3 separate regions of the Homo sapiens genome follow, and regions 2 and 3 are each linked to region 1. The links come from fine-mapping of genetic effects on gene expression. A gene starts in region 1. Each other region holds a variant in brackets. All regions are shown on one strand. Distances are between the middles of the regions. Region 1 holds the start of KLB (klotho beta). Region 2 overlaps KLB (klotho beta). Region 3 overlaps LIAS (lipoic acid synthetase).

Region 1 (8,186 bases):
AGAGCAAGACTCCGTCTCAAAAAAAAAAAAAAAAAAAATCAAAACAAAACAAAACAAAACAAAAAAAACCTTAGTTTTGAGGCCGGGCGCTGTGGGTCGGGAGTTCCAGACCAGCCTGACCAACATGGAGAAACCCCGTCTCTACTAAAAGTACAAAAAATTACCCAGGCGTGGTGGCACTTGCCTGTAATCCCAGCGACTCGGGAGGCTGAGGCTCCCGCTTGAACCCGGGAGGCGGAGGTTGCAGTGAGCCAAGATTGTGCCACTGCACTCCAGGCTGGGCAACAAGAACGAAAACTCCGTCTCAAAACAAAACAAAACAAAAACAAAAACTTAGAGTTGGTTCATCCATTAGTAGGTGTGATTATGGAAAATTTTTACCTGAGTCTTAGACCCGCATTAAGGTACTCCCTACATCTGCAATAAAGTGGAATCTAAATTGCAAGTCAGCCTTGGGACCCTCTGGACCATTCAGGTTTCCTCCAAATGGGAACATTTCAAACCGAGATGGAGTTTTCCAGATCATTCTGGAACGAAAAGGACCCCAATAGCCACTATGAAACCTTTTCTCTATCTGAGAAGTGGGGAATGAAGGGGTCCATACCCCCCCAGAATTCAGTTTTATATTAGGCTTGTGTAGCTCAATAAATGTTTTCGGTCTAAAAACTATTCCTAAAGAATGCTTCTTCTGGGTCACAAGGGGGCAGGAGAAGGAAGAAATACTTCATTGCAACGTAAAATATCAAATTAATGTTTTCTACGTGAAAGTCAAGACAGCGAGGGGACAAGTGGGAAAAACAAGTTCACCTCAGGCTACCAAATCATTGCAAGATTTCTTTAGTGCTATACGTCACTGGGTCATGCAGTGTATTTCACTTTCTGACTGATTTCAAGGACCCCTCACACCATTTATTTAGTCTAGTGATTTAGAACTTTTAAGGCAATACAAACATTATTTGGAAAACACAATAGTTGAAAAACATATCCCTCCATTTAAAATAATAAAATTTATCTCACGATCATAAAGTGCTAATTTTGTGTTAAAGGCAGAGAATATCTCAAATTAGAGGAAAATGAAAACATCTGAAAATATGTCATTTTATCAACTATGTTTGGAAGCAATATCTGTTAAAGCTTTTTGCCTGTTTATTCTTATCAGCCAATTTTAAGGCTTTAATCCTTAAAATACATTTTCATGAAAACTCTAATTGTTGACATTTTTCCAGGTAATGACTTTTCAACAATTTAGAATATTTTTCTTTATACAAAGGTTAAATAAACATATTCATGCATGTATTTGCATAGAAAACTTTAAAAAGAATGTATAAGAAACTATTAACAGTAGCGTCCTTGGCCTGGGATTGTCAGGTGAAGAGAGGGAGAGGGATTTAACTTTTTCACTTTAGATCCTTTGGTACAATGTGATATTTTTATTTTTTATTTATTATTTTTTTGAGACAGAGTTTCACTCTCGCCCAGGCTGGAGTGCAGTGGCGTGATCTCGGCTCACTGTAACCTCTGCCTCCCGGGTTCAAGGGATTCTCCTGCCTCAGCCTCCCGAGTAACTGGGACTATAGGCACGTGCCACGACGCCCAGTTAATTTTTGTGTTTTCAGTAGAGAGGGTTTCACTATGTTGGCGAGGCTGGTCTCAAACTCCTGATCTTGTGATCCACCTGCCTTGGCCTCCCAAAGTGCTGGGATTACAGGCATGAGGCACTGTGCCCGGCCCAATCTGATATTTTTAAATGTACATGAGCATGAATTGTTTTAAAAATTAAAAGGACTGGCTGAGCGCAGTGGCTCACACCTGTAATCCCAGCACTTTGGGAGGCTGAGGCAGGTGGATCATGAGGTCAGGAGTTGGAGACCAGCCTGGCCAACATAGTGAAACCCCTCTCTACTAAAAACACAAAAATTAACTGGGCTGGTGGCATGTGCCTGTAGTACCAGTTACTCAAGAGGCTGAGGCAGGAGAATTGCTTGAACCTGGGAGGTGGAGATTGCAGTGAGCCAAGACTGCGCCATTGCACTCCAGCCTGGGTGACAGAGTGAGACTTTGTCTCAAAAAAAAAAAAAAAGAAAATTAAAAGGACTAAATGAGAGGAATATTTTTCTAACTTTTGTATGCATAATCTTGATAACTGTTAAATACCTATACAATTTCTACCCTTTAAGGTCTTATTTTGTCAAATCACAGTATACCCACACATTAATATGTTCTATATACAACTCTAGTCAAAGATATGCAAATGACCTTGAAATCATAATGCAATCTGTTTACCTCAAGGGCAGATGTATCTGAAACCATAGTACAATGCACATGTGTAATAATCCAGAAAAGTTCAAAAAGAAAAGAAGTGATAGCAGATATTTTTGTATGTACAAATTTAGACATGGAATTATTTTATGTTGCTGTATTTTTTTTCTACTTCTGTATATTTAGCTTTTGATTATTAATAATTAAATTACTTTTTGTAGCACATTATAAAATTATATTGATAAAGTTTTTTCATTTTTAAAATGTAACAGGTGTGCAGAATAATTTATTTTTCCTAAGTAAACTATTTGACTCAAAAAGTTAAATTCGATTCTAGATATTAGCCTCAATGTGAGGCTAAATCTCTTGCAAATTCCTGAGTCTTCTTTTCAAAGCATTCTTAATGAAGACAGTTAGTGTTAATTATGTTGTCATTTAAAAAATCCATGTCCACAACAGCTGTATTTTACTCCTTAACCTTGGGAAAATTATTTAATCTCATTAAGCTTCAGTTTCCTCATCTTTTAAATGGGAAGAATAATAAAACTAGTTCAAAAGGCTGTTAAGAGGATCAACTGTAACGATGCATGTAAAATACTTAATGTAGTCTGTGGTACATAATAAGTACTCAGTAATTATTACCTATTATTTTGCTTGTATTTTCACTATTGTTTTACTAATTTTAACATTTCTCAACATTATCTCTAGCTTTTGAAATATATTGCTTGAAAATTGCTTTAGTAGAGCACATTCTTCCCAGTTCTTATGGGAAGAAATGTGTTTAGCTCCCATAACAATTAATCTTCTCTTTTTTGCTATGTAACACAAATAAAATCAAAAGTGAAGTATATTTAAATTTCTGTATTTAATATGCATGAGTTAGCTAACATTTATTTGGCTTACTTATTTACTTACTTTATTTACTTATTAGCTAAGTTAGCTATACTTAACAACAAATACATATTTGAAATGGTTGTGCCTTAAGATAATTCTGAAATGATTGCATGTTGTCAGAAAAGGGTTCCAACAATTAAATTTATGAAGCACTGTTTTCCCACAGAATGAAAGTAAGCTCATATATTCACACTGTAGTGTATAATGGTAGATTTAAAAATAGCCTCAAAGTGCAACTTTTGAAAAAACTAATTGGATTAATACATTAAAAATACCTTAGATAAATAAAACATACACTAACTTAAATGCAAAATTTGAGGATAGATCTTTTGAATTAGCTTAAAATCAGTTGCCTTGATTTCAGTGAAGAGAATTACTGAGGCAGAAGGTAAATTCTTAAATTCTTAGTGTTTTCTGAAGCTATAAGAAGAAGCTAGCTGTACAGTACCTTGATCAAGTTGTGTCCCACAGTGTAGACAGCTGCTAAATTTCCCTTCTCTCCAGGGGCATGCATACCTGTCCCATACCCATGCCAAGCCACTAGATATGGGTTGTGAATTGTAATCCAATATTTGACACGGTCCCCAAACATCTGGAAACAGTATGTGGCATAGTCATTGAAGATATCTATTATGGTATCATTTTTCCACCCCCCATATTTTTCTTGTAGTGCCAAAGGCAAATCCCAGTGGTATAAAGTAACTATAGGTTCAATGTTTCTAAGCACTAGAGCGTCCAGAAGAGTACTGTAGTACTGCAGACCTTTTGCGTTGGCAACTGTTACTATTCCATCGGGGAAAAGCCTTGGCCAGGAAATTGAAAATTGATAAAAAGAAACTCCTATAAAATCCAGGGCTGATAAGTCTTTTTCCAGAAAAATATAACTGTCACTGGAACCATTCGTGCTGCTGACATTTTTAAGGTGTGTGTGGATGAAATGATCCCATATAGAAGGTCCTTTTCCATCCTTCTTCCAACTCCCTTCCACTTGCAATGCTCCAGTCCCAATACCCCAGAAAAAGTTTTTAGGGAAAGTGTCATAGAGAAACAGCTGACTTTCATTTACCGGAGTAAAATTAGGATTTTTAGACCATATAGCTCTTCCATCTCCAGAGAATCCAGTAACAGCTCGTAGCAGAATAAGTGCTGACAGGATGACAGATCTTTGCAATCCCCCGTTGGACATTGTATTCCTATAGCGTGTGGTTATTTCATCAGTGCTGAAGAAAATCCATTCATTCCCTGGAGATCCTGCCGCACAGCCTGGCTTCATTTGCCACCAACTGCTGGACTGTCTTATCAAAGCTTCAGTAAAAGCTTGTGATTGTAAAGCTCTGTCAATGATTAGCTTGAACTGGGAGACTGAGGATGGGTCATAGAGAGCAACGTAATTTGAGGGAGGTGGCCCTATTGCAGTCACCAACGCGTCTCCTTCTCTCTCATTATGGAAAAAATTAGATGAAAATGCATCGGTGACAAGAGTTTGAATGTGTAACTAACACATATGTAAACACTGGATTAAAATCACATTATTTTCCGTGTAGCCTTTCATATTGACCCAAATCTTTTCTGAATGTTTTGAACATTATTGAATAAGGTATATAGCTTTTCTATTTTTAGAGTTTTTGTGTGGTAATTTTATAATCTCATATATCAAGAAAAATAACATATACAAGTATATAGCATTCCTACATACCAATAGTAAAGAATTAGAAAACACAATAAGAAATTACACTTCTCCACAAAATTATAACGCATCTAAGAACAATCTTAATAAATGTTACCTATTTTAGGAAAATTGCAAAAATGTATTGGTAGATTTGAGAGAAGACTTGAATGAGAAAATATAGCACTTTGTGGATGGAAAAATGAAATACTTTTCAATTTAATACATTTAACTTAACTAAAATCCTCTAATCTCTAATTTTATTTTTTATTTTATTTATTTAACTTAACTAAAATTCTCTAATCTCTAATTTTTTAATTAATTAATTAATTTTTAATAAGAGTCTTGCTTTGTAGCCTAGGCTGGAGTGCAGTGGTGTCATCACAGCTCACCGCAGCCTCAACTTCCCAGGCTTAAGCAATCCTCCCTCCTCAGCCTCCAAGTAGCTGGGACAACAGGCACATGCCACCATGCCCAGCTGATTTTTGATTTTTTGGTAGAGGTGGGGTCTAGCTATGTCCCCCAGGCTGGTCCTGAACTCCTGGGCTCAAACAGCCCTTCTGCCTCGGCCTCCTAAAGTGCTTGGGATTATAGGTGTGAGCCACCATGCCTGGCCTAATCCCAAATTTTAGTTCAAGAAAATTATTACGAAAGGCCAGGCACAGTGATTCATGGCTATAATCCCACCACTTTGGGAGGCCAAGGCAGGCAGATCACTTGGGGTCAGGAGTTTGAGACCAGCCTAGCCAACATGTTGAAACCCCGTCTCTATTAAAAATACAATTAGCTGGGCACGGTGGTGGGCACCTGTAATCCCAGCTACCTGGGAGGCTGAGGCAGGAGAATCTCTTGAACCTGGGACGTGGAGGTTGTAGTGAGCTGAGATCGCACCACCGCACTCCAGCCTGGGCAACAGAGCAAGACTCGGTCTCAAAATAAAAAAAAAAAAAAAAAGAGAAAATTATTATGAAAGTTCCCTTGAAGAATAGGCAATATTTATTTTTAAAAAGGAAAGAAAAACCTGAAAAAGAAAATAGCAAAGGCATAGACTACCTTCAGCATGATTCTGGAATAAAGATAAACATACAGAAAGAAATACATGCACATACAGAAAGAAATATTGTACCAAATCGATAGCCTCCAAATAACCTGTAAAAAATTTAATGTTTTACAGCCTGGGGAACATAATAAGGCCCCATCTCTACAAAAAAAATTAAAAACTAACCGGGTGTGGTTGTGCATGCCTGTAGTCCCAGCACTTTAGAAGGCCAAGGTGGGAGGATTGCTTTGAGCCCAAGAGGTCAAGACTGTAGTGAGCCATGATTGCACCACTGCACTCCAGCCTGGGTGACAGAATGAGACTCTGTCTCAAAAAATAATAAATAAATAAATAAATAAATGTTTTAAATATTTGAAGTATCACATATGAATGAGAAGCAGAGTGGTTAATAGTTTGGTCTCTGTGCCAGATGAGGTGGCTCACACCTATAATCCCAGCTACTTAGGAGGCTAAGTGGGGAGGACTGCTTGAGGCCAGGAGTTTTGAGACCAGCCTGGGCAATATAGTGAGACTATCCTCACCTCTAAAAAAAGATGATTGAGGCCCGGCACAGTGGTTCGCACCTGTAATCCCAGCACTTTGGGAGTCCGAGGCGGCTGGATCACCTGAGATCAGGAGTTCGAGACCAGCCTGACCAACATGGTGAAACCCCATCTCTACTAAAAATACAAAATTAGCTGGGCATGGTGGCACATGCCTGTAATCCCAGTTACTCGGGAGGCTGAGGCAGAAGAATTGCCTGATCCCGGGAGGTGGAGGTTGCAGTGAGCCGAGATCGCGCCATTGCACTCCAGCCTAGGCAACAAGAGCAAAACTCTGTCTAAAAAAAAAAAAAAAAAAAAAAAAAAAAAAAAAAAAAAAAGAGAGATTGAGCCTCTAGAGGCAGACTGCCTGAGTTTAAATATAGCTGTGTAACTTGCCCTCAGTTTCCTCTTTAAGAAAAGGCATAATAATAATATGCACTTCATGGATTATTGTGAGAATTAAACGAGTTAATACACTGAACCAAATGGTTTTCTCTGGAATATAGAAACGAATGAGCCAGTACATGTAAGGCACTTGGAACAGAGACTGACACATAGTAAGTTATGTGCTAATATTATTTTTGTGTGAAAGGGAAAGATTATTCAGGACATGATGCCAGGATTTAGCATAAAAGACAATTTGTTCTGGCTCCTGCCCACATTTTTAGCTTCACTTCTCTCAGTTGACTAAGGGGTACACAGCCTGCTAACTTGTAGCCCTGTACCTTGGTATGTGTGCTCTCTGCACAGAGTATGTTTCTCCCTTCATCTAGCTCATGTCTATCTTTTTTTTTTTTTTTTTTTGAGACGGAGTCTCACTCTGTCTGCCAGGCTGGAGTGCAGTGGCGGGATCTCGGCTCACTGCAAGCTCCGCCTCCCAGGTTCACTCCATTCTCCTGCCTCAGCCTCCTGAGTAGCTGGGACTACCGGCGCCCGCCACCACGCCTGGCTAGTTTTTTGTATTTTTAGTAGAGACGGGGTTTCACCGTGTTAGCCAGGATGGTCTCGATCTCCTAACCTCGTGATCCGACCGTCTCGGCCTCCCAAAGTGCTGGGATTACAGGCGTGAGCCACAGCGCCCGGCCGTCTTTTTTTTTTTTTTTTTTTTTTTAACTTTTAAGTTCAGGGACACGTGCAAGTTTGTTACATACGTAAACTTGTGTTATGGGTGTTTGCTGTATGGATTATTTCAGCAGGCAGGTATTAAGCCTAGTACTCATTAGTTTTTTTTTCCTGATCCTCTCCTTCTTCCGACCCTCCACCCTCTGATAGGCCCCAGTGTGTTATTTCCCTCTATGTGTCCAGGTGTTCTCATCATTTAGCTCCCACTTATAAGTGAGAACCTGCGGTATTTGGTCTTCTGTTCCTGCATTAGTAAGGCCTTTCTGACTCCCTATGACTCCCTAGCCTGATTGGATTTAGATGGATCTTCTGTTTTCCCATGGCAGCCCATGTTTTCTCTATTATGACACACAATAAATCAGCTAACCACACAATAAATGTATCTGTATCCTCTGTTTGAGTGTAAGTTTTCTCTCTCTCTCTCTGTTTCTCTCTCTCTCTCTCTTTTTTAAAAACCAAAACAGGGACCATGATTGGTTCCCTGTTGATTGTCTGTGGCCCAGCATGGTACTTGACATATAGCAGTCACTAAAGTATTTACTGAATGAATGAGAGTATCTATAGTAGGCTGGGCATGAGGGCCCACACCTGTAATCCCTGCACTTTGGGAGGCTGAGGCAGGAGGATCGCTTGAGTTCAGGTGTTCAAGACTAGCCTGGGC
Region 2 (8,186 bases), 41 kb before region 1:
TGCAACCTCTGTCTCCCAGGCTCAAGCAGTCCTCCCACCTCAGCCTTCTGTGTAGCTGGGACCACAAATACGTGCCACCATGCCTGGCTAGTTTTTTGTAGAGAGGGTTTTGCCACGTTGCCCAAGCTGGTCTCAAACTCCTGGAATCAAGCAATCCGCCCACCTTGGCCTCCCGAAGTGCTGGGGTTACAGGTGTGAGCCACCACACCTGAGCCACATTTTTTGAGAAAATATACCCAGAAGTAACATACCAAGTTGGTGCACAACTAGGCAGAAAGGGATTCAGGGGAGGCAGTCTTGGGGCAGAGCCCATTTACAATGCCAAACCCATTCACATTCAACAGTTCTTAAAATTGACCAGGTTGTTAGTTGAATACAAGTGGTCAGCATGAACCAGTTTATTTGGAATAAATTACATTGAAAATTAAACATGTAGTCACACTGTACTGGCCTCATTTTCCAGAGGCTCTTTAAATATAGTTGTGATTCTCCAGGTTGTTACATTGAATATACGATAAACACGTTAGATTTTTCACAACACATCTCAGAAAAGCTTAAACTCCAAAGATCTTACCTGTTTGCTCCTTTCAAGAGTTATCAGTTTCTGGTTGACCTTTGATGGTTTTTAAGGAGTTTATGATAAACCTGAATATTTAGTATGATAGAGCATGAGCCAGATTAAATGCTTAACCTAATTTGCTGTACATATTTGCCAGTGGTTAAAAAATTTAAGGGTTTTTGGATTCTTGTGCGATGATGGCTTAAAAACTAGTAAAATAATGCCCAAGTGGCAGAGAAGGAGGACTCTCAGTACTGGGTTAGGAATTTTATTACTTAGGGGAGTTTATGGTAAACCAGCAAGTTAGAAAAGGGGGGCATGCTTTAAGCATAAGCTCTTAATGTGAAAGAGACAGTGAAGGTTAATTTGTGAACTGTGAGTACGAGATACTTTAAACAAAGTGAGAAAGAGAAAGCAAAACCTGAAAGATAAATTCCAGGTTTTTGTTATTCCTGTGGCTAACCTTTTTTTTTTTTTTCCCAAGCCCTTGATGTTAAAGAGAGGTTAATGAGTTGCCCAGTTGACATTAAAGAATTTTCCCTGGAGTTCTTGGGTCAGGGTGAATCAATGTGGCACAAAGGGGAAAAAACCCAGCCAAGTGATTGTTTTAAGTGACTTACTGTTTCTACATAGTTAGAGTAATAAAAACAGAATTGACTAGTTGTATGCGTGACCTTAGGTACATAGTTCTCAGAGGGAGATGTTAATACTAAAAAAATTCCTTGAAAATCATACCTCAAAACTGCCAACTTTGGGGTAGTGGGTGCAGCTGGGGCAAGGAGACTAGAGAAGAGTAAAGCAGAATTTTACTGTTCCCATTTGCCAGGCCAAATAGCAAATTGATTTCTCATCATATTTGCATTTACTCAAATTGACTAATTGTATTTTTACAGTATTTTGGAAACTTGTTCATTAGCAGTTAGATACTGAATTTAGCTTCAGACATAGGTGGACCTAGAATATAATCAAAACTGCCTTAATTTACTAAGGCTTTGTAACAGAAGAACGTCTCTTGTGACTGTTAAGGTCTAAATTGCTGGAGTGAGCAGACAAGGACAAATTAATGTATGCAGTGGGTGTTAAATGTTGACCTAAAGAAAGAATAGGTATAAATAGGTGCATATTTAAGTTTTCTTCCTCAGATGTTTAAAATACACTGAACAAGTCTCAAGAACAGAGTTCATTTCCCAAAGTGTCAAATTATCCAAGTCAGATCTAGTAATTAACCCTAGCCCAAAAGGGTGCTATATAAAACAATTTAAACTCATTCAGTATTCTGAATTGTTGCTTTACTTACAGTATAGCAACTTCTATTCACAGAGTTGAGTCTAGCTTTCCTTCATCCTGTGATCTTTCCATGAGATGAGGTTTTGGAAATTACTTTTATTTTTATTTTTATTATTTTTTTTTATTTTGAGAGACAGTCTTGCCCTGTCCCCCAGGCTGGAGTGCAATGGCACGATCTTGGCTCATTGCAACCTCTGCCTCTCGGGTTCAAGCGATTCTCCTGCCTCGGCCTCCTGAGTAGCTGGGATTACAGGTGCCCACCACCATGCCCGGCTAACTTTTGTATTTTTAGTAGAGATGGGGTTTTGCCATGTTGGCCAGGCTAGTCTCGAACTCCTAACCTCAGGTGATCCACCTGCCTTGGCCTCCCAAAGTGCTGGGATTACAGGCGGTGCCACCGTGCCTGGCCGGAAATTACATTATTTTAAAAAATCAGATCTAGTAAAAGATCACAAATTAGATATTCTATAGGTGATTTTTTGTTGTTAGAAAAATGAAGGGCTTGATCCTCTTTAAGAGTCTGTGTTGTAACTGGCTTAGACAAGCACTACTTACCCTATTGTGTTTTCTTTCCATTTTAGAACCACCCTGACCTAAAGGAGAAGGCACCTTATTAGAAGTGACAGAATATATATTATCTATCACTGACTACCCAGTTTAAAGAAGGGTGTTAAATCTCTGCTGTAGAGTCTAACAAAACAAAGTTTTGCTTTTGCTTTTTTTTTTTTTTTTGGACACAGTCTTGCTGTTGTCGCCTAGGCTGGAGTGCAGTGGCGCAATTTTGGCCTACTGTAACCTGTTTCCTGGGTTCAAACTTCTGCCTCAGCCTCCCAAGTAGCTGGGATTACAGGTGCCACTGTCACCACGCCTGGCTAATTTTTTGTATTTTTAGTAGAGACATGGTTTCACCATGTTGGCCAGGCTGGTCTCGAACTCCTCACCTCAGGTGATCTCCCCGCCTCGGCCTCCCAAAGTGCTGAGATTACAGGTGTGAGCCACAGCGTCCAGCCCCAGAGTTTTACTTCTTAAAAATAATTTATTGTACCACAAGTAGCTATTGGTAGAGATGAAAGCTAAAGCAGAATGATGGAATACAGTTGATGAAACTTTAAGAAGCAATGTAGCATGTAATCCTCATAGCTTACTGTCAGGATGAAGCCTTTATGTTTACATCCAAGAACTGAGTTCACTGATGTCAACACCTAAGGGAATGTTCTTTGAACCACACAGCAGAGACAATTGTCATCACCTTGGTTACAGCTGTATCTCAGATTGTCTTTCTATAATACAGGTATATCTCCTGTAAGTTACCAGCATATGGAACTGGGATGAATTTTTAAACTGTCTATCATGCAGACAGATCAGTTTAGCTAACAACTCTCTTGCCTTTCTTTAATGGTATGTGTTGTAAGTTTTTTGCTTTCCAAAACTTTCTTCTCTTCTGCCTTTGAAAAATGGCAATTGATAAGAGTAGAACCAGGGTGGAGAAGAAGCAACAACCCAGGAATATCAGTGGTTTCTTCTGCACAAGGAATAAGCAGACAGTGCACTCTGTATTTTCTTGGGTCTGACTGCATCTAGAACTACTGTTCTCAAAAGGGAAGCCCCTGCTGCTGATCACTTTGTTGTAAAATTGTATTGAGGATTTAGCTTTAAAATCAGATGTGAAGAATCCAAATCTGGGTTTAGATTTCTCTTCAGCCAGTTTGAATGCATAATAGCCTTTGATTCTGACTTTATCAATCAGGTATGCTGAAAAAGATAAGAAATTAACATTAATCACAAATGGACTATGAAGTATCTTTGAGGAAGAATTTAGTTTTCATTGAAACAAGCTAAAATTATGCCCATAATAAAGGTAGTGATTTTTATTAGAGGGTTTTTTTTGACATTTATTCTTTTATGATCTATGTAAAGGAGAAGGTGAAAATATGTATAATTTAAGTCTGAAAAATTTGTAGTGAAACTTGATCCATAAATAATCCAAAAACTCTTGGAGGAAAAAGCAAATTTAAGGAGCAGAGCAATGAAGGTTGTCACTTTTGTTTAAAGGGTCACAAGCAGAAAAACGTTGCCTATTTGGCCTGATTGTGAACCTCAGATGTGCTCTTGGTGCAGCCCAGGAATCACAGTTGGTTTTACCCACTCACTCACTGTCGCTCGCTTAAGCTACCATGATGTGGTTATTTCACATTGCATGCTTGTATCGAAACATTTCATGCATCCCATAAATTTATACACCTGTTTACCCACAACCATTTTTTTAAAGCCTAGCAAGCATGGTGAAAATAAGTAACCCAAAATAGTGACTGTTTATCCTGGGGAGTGAGATTTCAGGTGATTTTTTAAAAACTTCTCCACGTGCCCAGTTTTCTATAATTGGTGTGTGTTACTTTTATGATTTTAAAATTTTTTCAAAAATCCCATAGGCCAGTTTTCAGGACAAAATTCAATTGACAGGACTTGGGTGCCACAAATTGGATGCTGTCAGGCACCAGCCTGCTGCTCCCATTCTTTGTTCTTGTCAGGTAACAGGAATCTCGCTCTGCCCTGTGTCTGAAGGGGCCCCGCCCTTACCTTTCAGCACCTCCTGAAGGTACTTCCCTAGGTAGTACTTCCGGAGCCGGTCATCCTCCAGAGCCTGGTCGTCGATGCCACTGGCGGTGATGTAAATGTCCATGTCGCCGTAGTTCCTCCGGACCCACCGCAGCAGCTTGCGCACCCCCCAGGGAATCACAGCCAGGCGCGTGGGGGAGCTCAGGCGGGTGATGTCCTGCAGAAACTGGATGTCCCTGTCCGAGTCGTAGCGGCTGCCGGCCAGCTGCTCGTGCATCACGAACCTAGTGGTGAAGTGGTTGAGCGCGCAGAAGTCGACCGTGCCCTTGAGCAGCCTCCTTTCGGCCTCGGTGAGGCGCGGCAGGGCCGAGCTGGAAAGCCCCCGTCGGTGCTTGGAGGCAATGTATTCCCTCATGGCCGCGGGGTAGTCCCCGGTCTTGAAGAGCGGCTCGGCGAACCAGGCGATCTCGAACTGCAGGAAGCGCTCGGCCGCCCTCCAGTGCGAGTCAGCATAGGGGTTGGCGGGTTCC[G/A]CCCAGTCCGCGTGCAGCGACAGCGACACGGCCCCGCGCTGTGAGGGCCTGAACTGCCGGTCGTAGAGGCGCCAGGCCAGGGCGTGGGCCACCAGCAGGTTGTGCGCCGCCCCGTAGGTGTCGTTGCCAGAGCGGTTGTAGATGTCACTTAGCCGGTTAGGCTCGTTGATGGTGATCCAGAGCTTCACCAGGTCCCCCAGCTCCTGGAAGCACAGCCCAGCGTAGGCCTGGAAGGCCTCGGCCGTCGATGGGTTCAGCCACCCGTCGGCATGCAACAGAGGCTCGGGGAGGCCTAGGTGGGCGTGGGTCGGATAATACAGGGTGACCATCGCGGAGATGCCAAGCTTCAGCCCCTCACTGACCACGCACCTGTAGTACCTCAGGGCCTGTCGGTTCACCGCGGACAGGTTGCCAGTGGGAAGGACCGAGGCCCAATCCAGAGCAAACCGGTAGTGGGTGACTTTCATTCTTGCCAACATCTCAAGTTGTTTTTTGATGTTTACAAAATCTGTGCATTGAGCGGGTCGTGTTTTCAGCCTCACCCCTTCCACTCGGTGCAACAGTCTGTTGCCAGTGGCGTTCCACACGTACAGATGAGGATCGCTGAACTGTGGGGACGAAGCCACAGACTCGGGCTGTGAAAAACAAGCTCATTTAGGTCAAGCATGCGCTGGCAGATGGAGGCTCAAGTGATCTGCCTACCTCTGCCTCCCAAAGTGCTGGGATTACAGGCCACCACGCCAGGCCTATTCCAGCCCTTGAAATCTCCCAAGGAGACCAGAAAACAGAGAAGGAGCCACACCCAGGTCCTGGCTTGGAAAACAAGTTGTTTGAGAAAACATTGGGAAGCCATTTTCCAGTTCATTTAACTTTAAACCCTAGGTTATATATGGTGGGGTTTGAAGTGATTCTGTTCAAATGCATCAGGAAATTGGCTTGGTACACTCAATTAAAAGCAATTACAAAAGAGATTCTAAACCCTGCCATAAATTGAAGACAAAGTTGAAATTCCTGTTGTAGAGATTTCACTGAGAAGAGGAGGTTGACCCCAGGCACAATTCCTTAAAAAGGCTGGTGCGGTGGGGTAGGCAATGACCCCTTGCTTTTGCTGAATGCAAATTTCTAACTTGTATTTAAAAAATCCAGGCCGGGCGCGGTGGCTCATGCCTGTAATCCTAGCACTTTGGGAGGCTGAGGCGGGCAGATCACCTGAAGTTGGGAGTTTGAGACTAGCCTGACCAACATGGAGAAACACCGTCTCTACTAAAAAAAAAAAAAAAAACAAAAAAACAAGATTAGCCAGGCGTGGAGGCGCATGCTTGTAATCCCAGCTACTCTGGAGGCTGAGGCAGGAGAATCGCTTGAACGCAGGAGGCGAAGGTTGCAGTGAGCCGAGATCATGCCATTGCACTCCAGCCTCGGCAACAAGAGCAAAAACTCCATCTCAAAAAAAAAAAAAAAAGAAAAGAAAAGTTCAAGTGATAACACATTTGCATCCATCATGTCTCCCCGACCCATGTGCCTGTGAGAACATAGCATTTATTCATCCAACAGATGAATAAATGGGTTATGGGTGGAAAGGACAGTAGACTATCCCTAGAAACTCCCAAGGTTGACACTTGGATCTGACAGAGTCTCATTCTGTGTCTCTCCACGAAGGAGAGAGCCCTGGACTCCTGTTCTAGTTCTGCCCCTTTGAAACTCAGGCTTGGCAACTATATAGTGACGGAGTAATCGCACCCACCTCACAGGTGTGCTGTGAGGACTCAGTGACTCTGGGAAGGTGCTCTGGGAACTCTAAAGCGCTATACAAACACAATGTAGTCATGACTTGGGTTTCATTTTCCCTAGTGGCAATAATTGCCTGCTAGGCCCTTGAGTCCAAACTAAAACAAAGCCCTTAAGAAAAACATTCCCAAATTCAAGATTAATAAGGGAAAGTAAAAGTTAAGTACTTGTTTTAAAGTACTTCTTTTTCCCCTCATGACAGAATTTAAATACACCAGGAAAAAACTATAATTAACCTTTGGTAAATATCTTCCCTCTAATTGTTTTTTCGTGTGTCATCTTTCATAGTTTAATTACAAAACCATATCACTGCCCGTTTGCCATCTGCCAACCAGTTATCTAGAACATTAAACTAAGAGAACATTGATCATGTGAGCATGAAGTTAAATCCGTATATAATTCATTATTTGAGTAAAATCCTCCTAGCCTAGATGGCCAGTTTTAATGTTTTGAAAACTCAGAACATCATGGTATTGAAAGGATGTTTATAAAAGGCAGTCTTGCTATGGGGCAAGGCAAGATCAAATAAAAATGTCTTACGTTAAAAACCTTCAGAAAGCATTAATCTCAGCAAGTGTGTATGATTAGTCTGCTAAGAGGTTAATTTTCTAGTTAAAGATGATGCATCCCAATCCCAACCCCAGCTCCCAGAGCTTGTTTCTAAAATCCTATTCCCCACCAAAAGGACCTTGTACTCCTTGGAGAAATGGCTTTTTCCAGGAGAAGAATGAGATGAAGGTGGGCATCTTGTGCCAGAAAATAAGGAAGTGCTTAAAAACTGAAAGGGAAATGTGGAAAAGACAGAAACAGCTTGAGGGGGTCCCATTGACTAAATTTGAAACAACTTGAGCATCAAAAGGAACAATATCATAGTGACAATAATGAATTATAAAACATCATCCAGCTAATAAATGTGGAGGGAATAATCCGATTAGAAATTTACCATTTTGCAATTTACAAAGTAATGATTAAGGCAAGGTTCATGAAAGAATGTTTTGTTTGTTTGTTTGTTTGTTTATTTGAGACGGAGTTTTGTTCTTGTCGCCCAGGCTGGAGTGCAATGGCGCGATCTTGGCTCACTGAAACCTCCGCCCCCCGGGTTCAAGCGATTCTCCTGCCTCAGCCTCCTGAGTAGCTGGGATTACAGATGCCAGCCACCATGCCTGGCTAGTTTTTGTATTTTTATTAGAGACGGGGCTTCACCATGTTGGCCAGGCTGGTCTTGAACTCCTGACCTCAAGTGATCCACCCACCTCGGCCTCCCAAAGTGCTGGGATTACAGGTGAGCCACTGTGCCCGGCCCGGTTCATGAAAGAATGTTAAAACCATGGAGTGAAATGTTGTTGAGGAATAGGATATTCATAGAGTCCCAAGTATCAACATCAGATTTCTTCTTTTTTCTTTTTTTTTTTTTTTTTTTGACAAAGTCTCACTGTGTTGCCCAGGCTGGAATGCAATGGTGCGAT
Region 3 (8,186 bases), 63 kb before region 1:
GATCGAGGTCATCCTGGCTAACACGGTGAAACCCCGTCTCTACTAAAAATACAAAAAATTAGCCAGGCGTGGTGGCGGGCACCTGTAGTCCCAGCTACTCAGGAGGCTGAGGCAGGAGAATGCCGTGAACCTGAGAGGCAGAGGTTGCAGTGAGTCAAGATTGTGCCACTGCACTCCAGCCTGGGCGATGGAGAGAGACTGCATCTAAAAAAAAAATAATAATAATAAAATAAAAAATAAAGAGATGAGATCTCACAATGTTGCTCAGGCTGTATTTGAACTCCTGGGCCCATGCGATCCTCCTGCCTCGGTCTCCCAAGAAGTTGGGACTATAGGCACACACCACCACACCTGGCCTAGCTGTTTCTTTTTTTTATTTTATTTTTGAGACACAGTGTCTTGCTCTGTCACCCAGGCTGGAGCTGTAGTGACACGATCATAGCTCACTGCATCCTTGAACTCCTAGGCTCAAGTAATCCAACTGCCTTCCAAAGTGCTGGGATTACAGGCATGAGCCACCTTGCCTGGCCTATTTATTCTTTTTTTTTTTTTTTTTTTGAGACAGAGTCTTGCTCTGTTGCCCAGGCTGGAGTGCAGTGGCACAATCTCGGCTCACTGCAAGCTCGGCCTCCTGGGTTCATGCCATTCTGCTGCCTCAGCCTCCCGAGTAGCTGGGACTGCAGGTGCCCGCCACCATGCCCGGCTAATTTTTTTGTATTTTTAGTGGAGAGGGTTTCACCGTGTTAGCCAGGATGGTCTCGATCTCCTGACCTCGTGATTTGCCCGCCTCAGCCTCCCAAAGTGCTGGGATTACAGGTGTGAGCCACCCCACCTGGCCAGCCAATTTATTCTTAATCATTATAATTGTTAAGTCCAACTGACAGGGACATCATAAACACTTTCTAGATTAAATTCGGTCTTCAGATATGTTCTTTTGGATCCTCCGACAATCATTATCACATGACTTTTTATCCCTTGGAAAATGATTTTCTTTTCATAAATCAATTCAAGCTATTGATTAAAATAAGAGCTGAAATTCCAAAAGTAAAAAAAATTTGCATTGTAGCTAGTAAAACAACTAAACGTTCCTACGGAGAAAAATAATCTTATGGATATTTTTCTGTTGCCTCTGGGGGAAAAATACAAAGAAATTTAATGATGCAAGCAATGCTATCAAATAAGATACTTTTCAGTGCTTAAACTGATTGAAACTGAGTCTGGAGATGCAGCTGGCATCATTTCCAAATAAATATGTATTTCTCAGAAAACCCTATTAGATGCTTGACATGCTCTGTCATTTCTGAATAACCTACTACTGAAATCTACACATAGAAAAAATTAATAAACTAATTGTTTCTGCTTTTACTATAGTAGCTGAGTTACAAAGCAGGGGGCTGAATTTGTTTAAGAAACAAAAGATTAAGAGAAACTTTTCTTAATATGATCCCCATGGAGCAAAGCTCCTAAGGATGTTCCAGAAGAAAAACTACGCCCTCTACCAAGACCACCAAAGGTATTAGAATTTGTCAAGAGTTTTAGTGACTGGTGGTAGAACTTAATGTGGAAAGTTAACGGCCTAAATGAAACCATGCCCCACAATCTAACTTACCTGCTTTATATGAAGAACGCACCAAAGGGCCACTTGCAGTATAATGAAATCCAAGTTCATTTCCTACTTTTTCCCAGTATTTGAATTTTTCAGGAGTAATATATTCTTCAACCTAGATTTAAATAATTACTTCTGATCAGATTTTAGAATTCCACTTTGATTCTGCAGAAAGTCTATACCTATGTATGCAGAATGCTCTTCACTGCGTAATTTATCTTGCCCCCACCCCCAGGCTTTTGTCCTCTCCCTCCTCCCTGACTACGTGTTTACTGGTTACTTTTTGGCCACTCTATTGGGATGTAAATACAGGGAATTACAGAGACAGGGAAGCATATCAATTTTGTGCTACAATGGCTATTCCAAAGGACAGAGAAAGAAGAGATTATCTACAGATATTATTTATCTATATTTTTCCTTCGTTAACAGCTAAATTCAAGAATTACTCATGCTTATCTGATTCTTGAGGACAAGACTGTCTTACTCAACTTGTATCTTCTGCTTAGCACTGTGACTGGCACATGGTCACTGCTCAACACAAGCTTCTTGAATGAATGGATAAATGTCCATGATAGAAATAGAAAGAATGGTTTCCCATTCTTTCTTCGCCTCTGGCTCTAACATAACAAAAACAAGTTACACAATAACCAAGTGTAAATGAGTGCCATTTCCCAACTTTTAAATTCTTTTTCTCTAGGTTCACTTGAGTTGTGAAATTTGTGAAGAGAATGGGGGAGGCAGCAAATATGTGCAAACGTAGCTGATTTATGTAGATAATAAAATGAAAACTGGGACTTATAAGAATACAGCTGAGCCTTGAACAACATGGTAACTGCACAGGCCCACTTATACAAGGATTTTCTTCCATTTCTGCCACCCCTGAGACAGCATGACTAACTCCTCCTCTTCTCCCTTGTCCTCATCTACATGAAGATGATGAGGATGAAGACCTTTATGATGGTCCACTTCCACTTAATGACTAGTAAATATATTTTCTTTTCCTTATGATTTTCTTCAAAAAATTTTTTCTCTAGCTGACTTTATCATAAGAATAAGATGTGTATATATGTGTGTGTGTGTGTGTGTGTGTATATGTGTGTGTGTATATACAGATATACACACACACATACGTATATATATAAGTACATGTAACATACAAAATGTGTGTTAATTGACTGTTATTGGTATGGCTTCCGGTCAACAGAAGGCTATTAGTAGTTATGTTTTTTTGGGAGTCAAAAGCTATACATGGGCTGGGCGCAGTGGCTCACACCTGTAATCCCAGCACTTTGGAAGGCTGAGGCGGGTGGATCACCTAAGGTCAGGAGTTCAAGACTAGCCTGGCCAAAATGATGAAACCCCATCTCTATTAAAAATATAAAAAATTGGCTGGGTGCGGTGGCTCACGCCTGTAATCCTAGCGCTTTGGGAGGCCGAAGCGGGTGGATTGCCTGAGCTCTCAGGAGTTCGAGACCAGCCTGGGCAACATGGCAAAATCTTGTCTCTAAAACTACAAAAAAATTAGTCGGGTGTGGTAGTGTGTGCCTGTAATCCCAGCTACTCAGGAGGCTGAAGCATGAAAATCATTTGAAC[C/T]TGGGAGGTGGAGGTTGCAGTGAGCCGAGATTGCCCCACTGCACTCCAGCCTGGGCGACAGAGCGAGACTCCGTCTCAAAAAAAAAAAAAAAAAAAAAAAAAAATTATATATATGTATATTTTAGCCGGATGTAGTGGCACCCGCCTGTAGTCCCAGCTGCTCAGGAGGGTGAGGCAGGAGAATCACCTGAACCCAGGAAGCAGAGATTACAGTGAGCCGAGATTGTGCCACTACACTCCAGCTCAGGCGACAAGAGCAAAACTCCATCTTTAAAAATAAAAAAAAAAAAAAAAAGCAAATCAAGATACATGTACCTTAAGGTGACGCCTTGTTGGCTGCATATATTGTCCTAAAGTCAAGCAGTCTACATCTGCCTCACGAAGTGCTGTAGGAAGAAAAGCACAAATTACATTAGCAAATACTTTAATTGTAGATCTAAGCATAATTTTCCTAAGGAATATTTAAAAACGGTGTGAACTTTATGACAGTCCATAATCTTCATGTTGGGGAATAAGACAACATCTATTCATTCAAAAGTATTATGTGCCAGGGACTGTGGTAAGGACTGAAAACAATAATAATTAAGACAGTCATGTAGGGCTGATACATACAAGGATAAATACTTCTAATACTATGGAATCAATGCTAAAATAGTAGTGGAGGGTATTTTAGAGTAGGAGTCTGGTAGAAAAGGTATGGGAAATGGTATATGCAAAAACCTCAATGCACCTATATTATAGAGCAAATATGTTGCATTAGGCTTTTACTCAATGCACAAGATATGCTATGGGGGCTGTGATTTAAACTATGACATATCAGAATCTTTCTAATAAACTGTGTGCAATGTGGTAAACAGCAGGTCTTGATTATTATATGAACTTATTACTCTTTGAACCACTAAATAACTACAAGTAGTCCAAGGGTCCTCAGCTAAAATTAAAACTTTGAAATTCCAAAGTTTAAAAAGTCCAAGAATCACAAAGCAAATGGACTTACGGGACTAAAGTTCAGCAAAGTCCAAAGCACACCATGTTATGTGACAATGCTACAAGTAAGCTCTTTCTCAGAGGCCTGGATTAGTCTCATTGATCTATGAACTGTCAGTGCCTGGTACCAGGCTGGCTCTCCAAAAGTGTCCAATGATAGAATGAGAAAAGTGGATGAAATCATGCTTTCAGTGGATGCAAAGGATGGGGAATAAAATGGGATATAAATTTTGTATCCTGAGCGTCATGCATATCACTCCATGAAATTCCAAGAAAATTTATTTCCTTTGCTTTTTTTTTTTTAACTTGTATTTTAGATTTGAGGGTGCATGTGCAAGTTGGTTTCCTTTTCATGCTGCCATCTATAACCATATACTTTTCTTTGTTCTTAGAAGGGCCTTCAAAGTGAGTGGGTTCCTGCTATTACTCAAATTACATGGGAAAGATTTTTCATTTTTCAATTTCTTTACCTTTCATTGTTGCATATACTTGCTCATCATTCTCGCCTAAACCCAACATTATAGATGTTTTAGAAATAACATCAGGCTGAACCTTCTTGGCATGTTTCAGTACACGTAGGGACTGATCAAAATTGGCCCGAGGATCACGAACCTTACTGGAAAACAGCAGGACTGTTGTCAGCAAGAATTACAAGTTCAACCAAGTACATAGTTATGCAAGCAACCTGAAAGACCAGAGAAGTACATTCTGCACATTATCTTAAATCACATAGTTCAAAGGTAGCATTTATGCACAGATGCCTGTTAATTTAGGAAAGAAAAGGCCTCACTGGGCTCCCTAGTTCTATCTCAAGCCTGGGGCAGAGAAAAGTAGAATGGAAGAAATTACTTCAGTTTATGCATTGAGAAACCAGAATTCTGAAGCGAAAAATTAGAAGAGAAAGGAAAAAAAGCAGAAGTAAGAGAGTCTCCATACTGAACAAAGAAAAAAATAAGCTGAACCCACATGTCAGAGGGTTGAAACTTTCAAGTTCATTTCTTTTCTGAAGACTAAGCTGCCCTCTGCTGGTAAGTATACAACACTGCCACATATTAGGTAAAGAAATGCATGATTCTGGAATTTTCACTGGAAAGGATCATGTTTTTAAGTGAAACCAGGGAAACTGGCACCCACTGGTGGTGGTATCATGATGAGGTTGGAACAGGCTGTGTCCTAGACTTCAACAATGGCCAAACCACCATGGCTTAAATGACTTATCCTTTAAGCCAAAAGGCCAGAAAGCTTCTGATGTTAAACTGGATTTCATTTCAATTCTAATGCAGCTTTATTTTCTGTAATTGTTTTTCATTGGAGACTAGTTAACAGGAAAGAGAAGAAACAAATTTATGAACTTAAAAGTAACTGAAACTGACATTATAGAAATCACTTTTTAACAGAATTTCTCCACTGAAATTAAGTTATGGTCTCTACTGTTTATGATTTAGTGAAAATGGTGGTTATTGTTTACTGTAACTTCTTTCAGGCTCTATGACACAGATCATATGTAGAAGCTAATAAAATCACTGCTAAATGCTAAAATTAAAGAAAAAAATGATATTACTCTTGCCCGAAGCTTAAAATGTTCATTTTTCTAAAATTTGAATGGATGTGGATAACAATCCTTACTTTTTTTCTTACATCAGTGTTACTTGCCAATGATTAGTCTTAATTACTGAAATTATTAGGAATAAGAAAGCATAGTGTCTACTTTTTTTAAAAAGTACATCTGAATGATATGAGTTTTTTTCTTTTTTTTTTTTTTTGAGACAAAGTTTTGCTGTCGCCCAGGATGGAGTACCATGGCACTATCTCGGCTCACCGCAACCTTCGCCTCCCGGGTTCAAGCAATTCTCCTGCCTCAGCCTCCAGAGTAGCTGGAATTACAGGTCTGCACCTAGCTAAAATTTTTTGTATATTTAGTAGAGATGGGGTTTCATCATGTTGGCCAGACTGGTCTTGAACTCCCAACCTCAGGTAATCCGCCCGCCTCGGCCTCCCAAAGTGCTAGGATTATAGGCGTGAGCCACGAGTTTTTCTTCTGCATCATTTATTACACATATTAGTGCTGAATATATATATATAAATATATATGAATATATATAATATAAAAAAATATATATATATATATATATTTTTTTTTTCCTTTCTCTTTCTAGATGGAGTTTCGCTCTTTTTGCCCAAGCTGGAGTGCAATGGCGCAATCTCACCTCACTGCAACCTCCGCCTCCCGAGTTCAAGTGATTCTTCTCCTGCTTCAGCCTACCGAGTAGCTGGGATTACAGGCATGTGCCACCACGCCTGGCTATCTTGTATTTTTAGTAGAGACGGGGTTTCTCCATGTTGGTCAGGCTGGTCTCGAACTCCCAACCTCAGGTAATCTGCCTGCCTCTGCCTCCCAAAGTGCTGAGATTACAGGCGTGAGCCACAGCATCCAGCCAAATATATTTTTGAAGTCTTTTCTTTAGAATTACAACCAAAGCAATTGCTCTAGTGTAATTTTTTCCCTCCTTTGAAAACTTTATTTGTGGGGAGGGGGAAACAAACAACTTATTGAAATTTGCAGTATGATATTATTTTAAAACAAAAGAAAAAAGATGTTAATTATTTGTGGGTATTAAAACACACACAGTAACTTAGTAATATGAGTTACTAACATCTTAATGTTTGTAATATAAAAATTAAGTATATTATAAATATAAAAATACAAATATGTAGTATAAATATAGTGTTTATAATATAAACACTAAGGTGTTAGTAACTGATATTGCTGGGTGGAAATACTATTATGGGTGATATTTATGCTGATTTTGTTGGTGATATTTTCTGATTTTTATGTAAGAGACATAGATTGAGTTTGCCTAAAAAACAAAAAAGAATAGAGTTTACTTTGTAAAAGTCAATGGCAAAGTTCAGCCCTGGAAAAGGCAAGAATATATGGCATATTTTGACCCGCCTAACTTCCCAACATTACTTTGTACACGTATTCACCTCTGTAATTCCGGGACTGTTTCTACATTATGTGCATACACATCTAATCCTGACAGAGCAACTTTTTCTATTGCTTTGAGATCACCTCGAAAATCAGGAGTAAGACACTCCACAAGGATTTTTGGATTCCTAAGGGGAAAAGAGAGAATTATCAAACAGAGAGAAAGAACTGACATACCTGTTCCTCAAAATAGAAATTATCAGTAATCGTTCAGTATGCTTCAACACAGTAACCTTTAGAACTTTGTCAAGAAAAGTATGAACATACAGATGTTCATACATGAACCATTATTAAAAAAAAAAAAGCAGACCGTTAAATACTATGTACACAGTGGTTAAAACACACCTGTAGGCAAACTGAATAAAATTTCAAATTATATATAGTAGACTTTTAAACCTAATTTAAGTAGGTTTTAGAAAAAGTAAATAATTGCAAGAAACTAAAATATGAAATATTAAAACATTAAATATAAAACTTTACTCATTGGAAAGTAAATTGAAGTATTTCTTATATAAATGTGAGTATTATTTGATTGCTTTAATTTTGATTTCTTTAAAAAGTCATCAAATCATGCTCTCCTCCCTTCCTCTAGGCAAATATTTCACAAGTGCTACGGGTTTTAAAAACTATTTTCTGGGTTGCTGAGTCATGAGCTTTGTTAAACGAAGTACGAGCTAAACATTAATCTTCCTATTTATATTGTGGCTATATCTATTCATCCAAGTATTATAATGTGAACTGGGTCACAGAGCTGTTCCCTTTGACACCAGCAAAAACGACTGAAACAGCTGACACATTTTTTCACAAACCCACTGGCAAAGTGTCTGGAGTTGTTCCCTGAAAGAACAGATGTAGAAAAGACCACATGTACACCCTTATCATGAATATAAGAGATATTCAAAGAACATATCCTATAATTTTTTTTTTTTAAATAAAAACAGGGTCTTGCTCTGTTGCCCAGTGCATCATAGCTCACTGTAACTTTAAACTCCTGGGCTCACGCAATCCTTC

Evidence for each region.
Region 2: its variant is fine-mapped to the expression of KLB in testis (GTEx, PIP above 0.99).
Region 3: its variant is fine-mapped to the expression of KLB in cerebral cortex (GTEx, PIP above 0.99). The same link has a PIP of 0.9 or more in cerebellar hemisphere and cerebellum.

What each region holds. Positions count from the first base shown.
Region 1 is chr4:39,403,190-39,411,375 of GRCh38, reverse strand. It overlaps KLB (klotho beta), which reads right to left and starts at 4,446. Exons shown (of 5, transcript NM_175737.4): 1 at 3,602-4,446. The coding sequence starts at 4,426.
Region 2 is chr4:39,443,713-39,451,898 of GRCh38, reverse strand. It overlaps KLB (klotho beta), which reads right to left. Exons shown (of 5, transcript NM_175737.4): 4 at 4,424-5,567; 5 at 366-3,598. The coding sequence ends at 3,213. Among named protein-coding and RNA genes, the nearest start is that of RPL9, 11 kb to the left of the region's middle. RefSeq lists an enhancer at 4,581-4,770. The variant G/A (reference allele first, on the strand shown) is at 4,933.
Region 3 is chr4:39,466,635-39,474,820 of GRCh38, reverse strand. It overlaps LIAS (lipoic acid synthetase), which reads right to left. Exons shown (of 11, transcript NM_006859.4): 7 at 7,175-7,303; 8 at 4,657-4,802; 9 at 3,515-3,585; 10 at 1,610-1,721. Among named protein-coding and RNA genes, the nearest start is that of LIAS, 12 kb to the right of the region's middle. The variant C/T (reference allele first, on the strand shown) is at 3,200.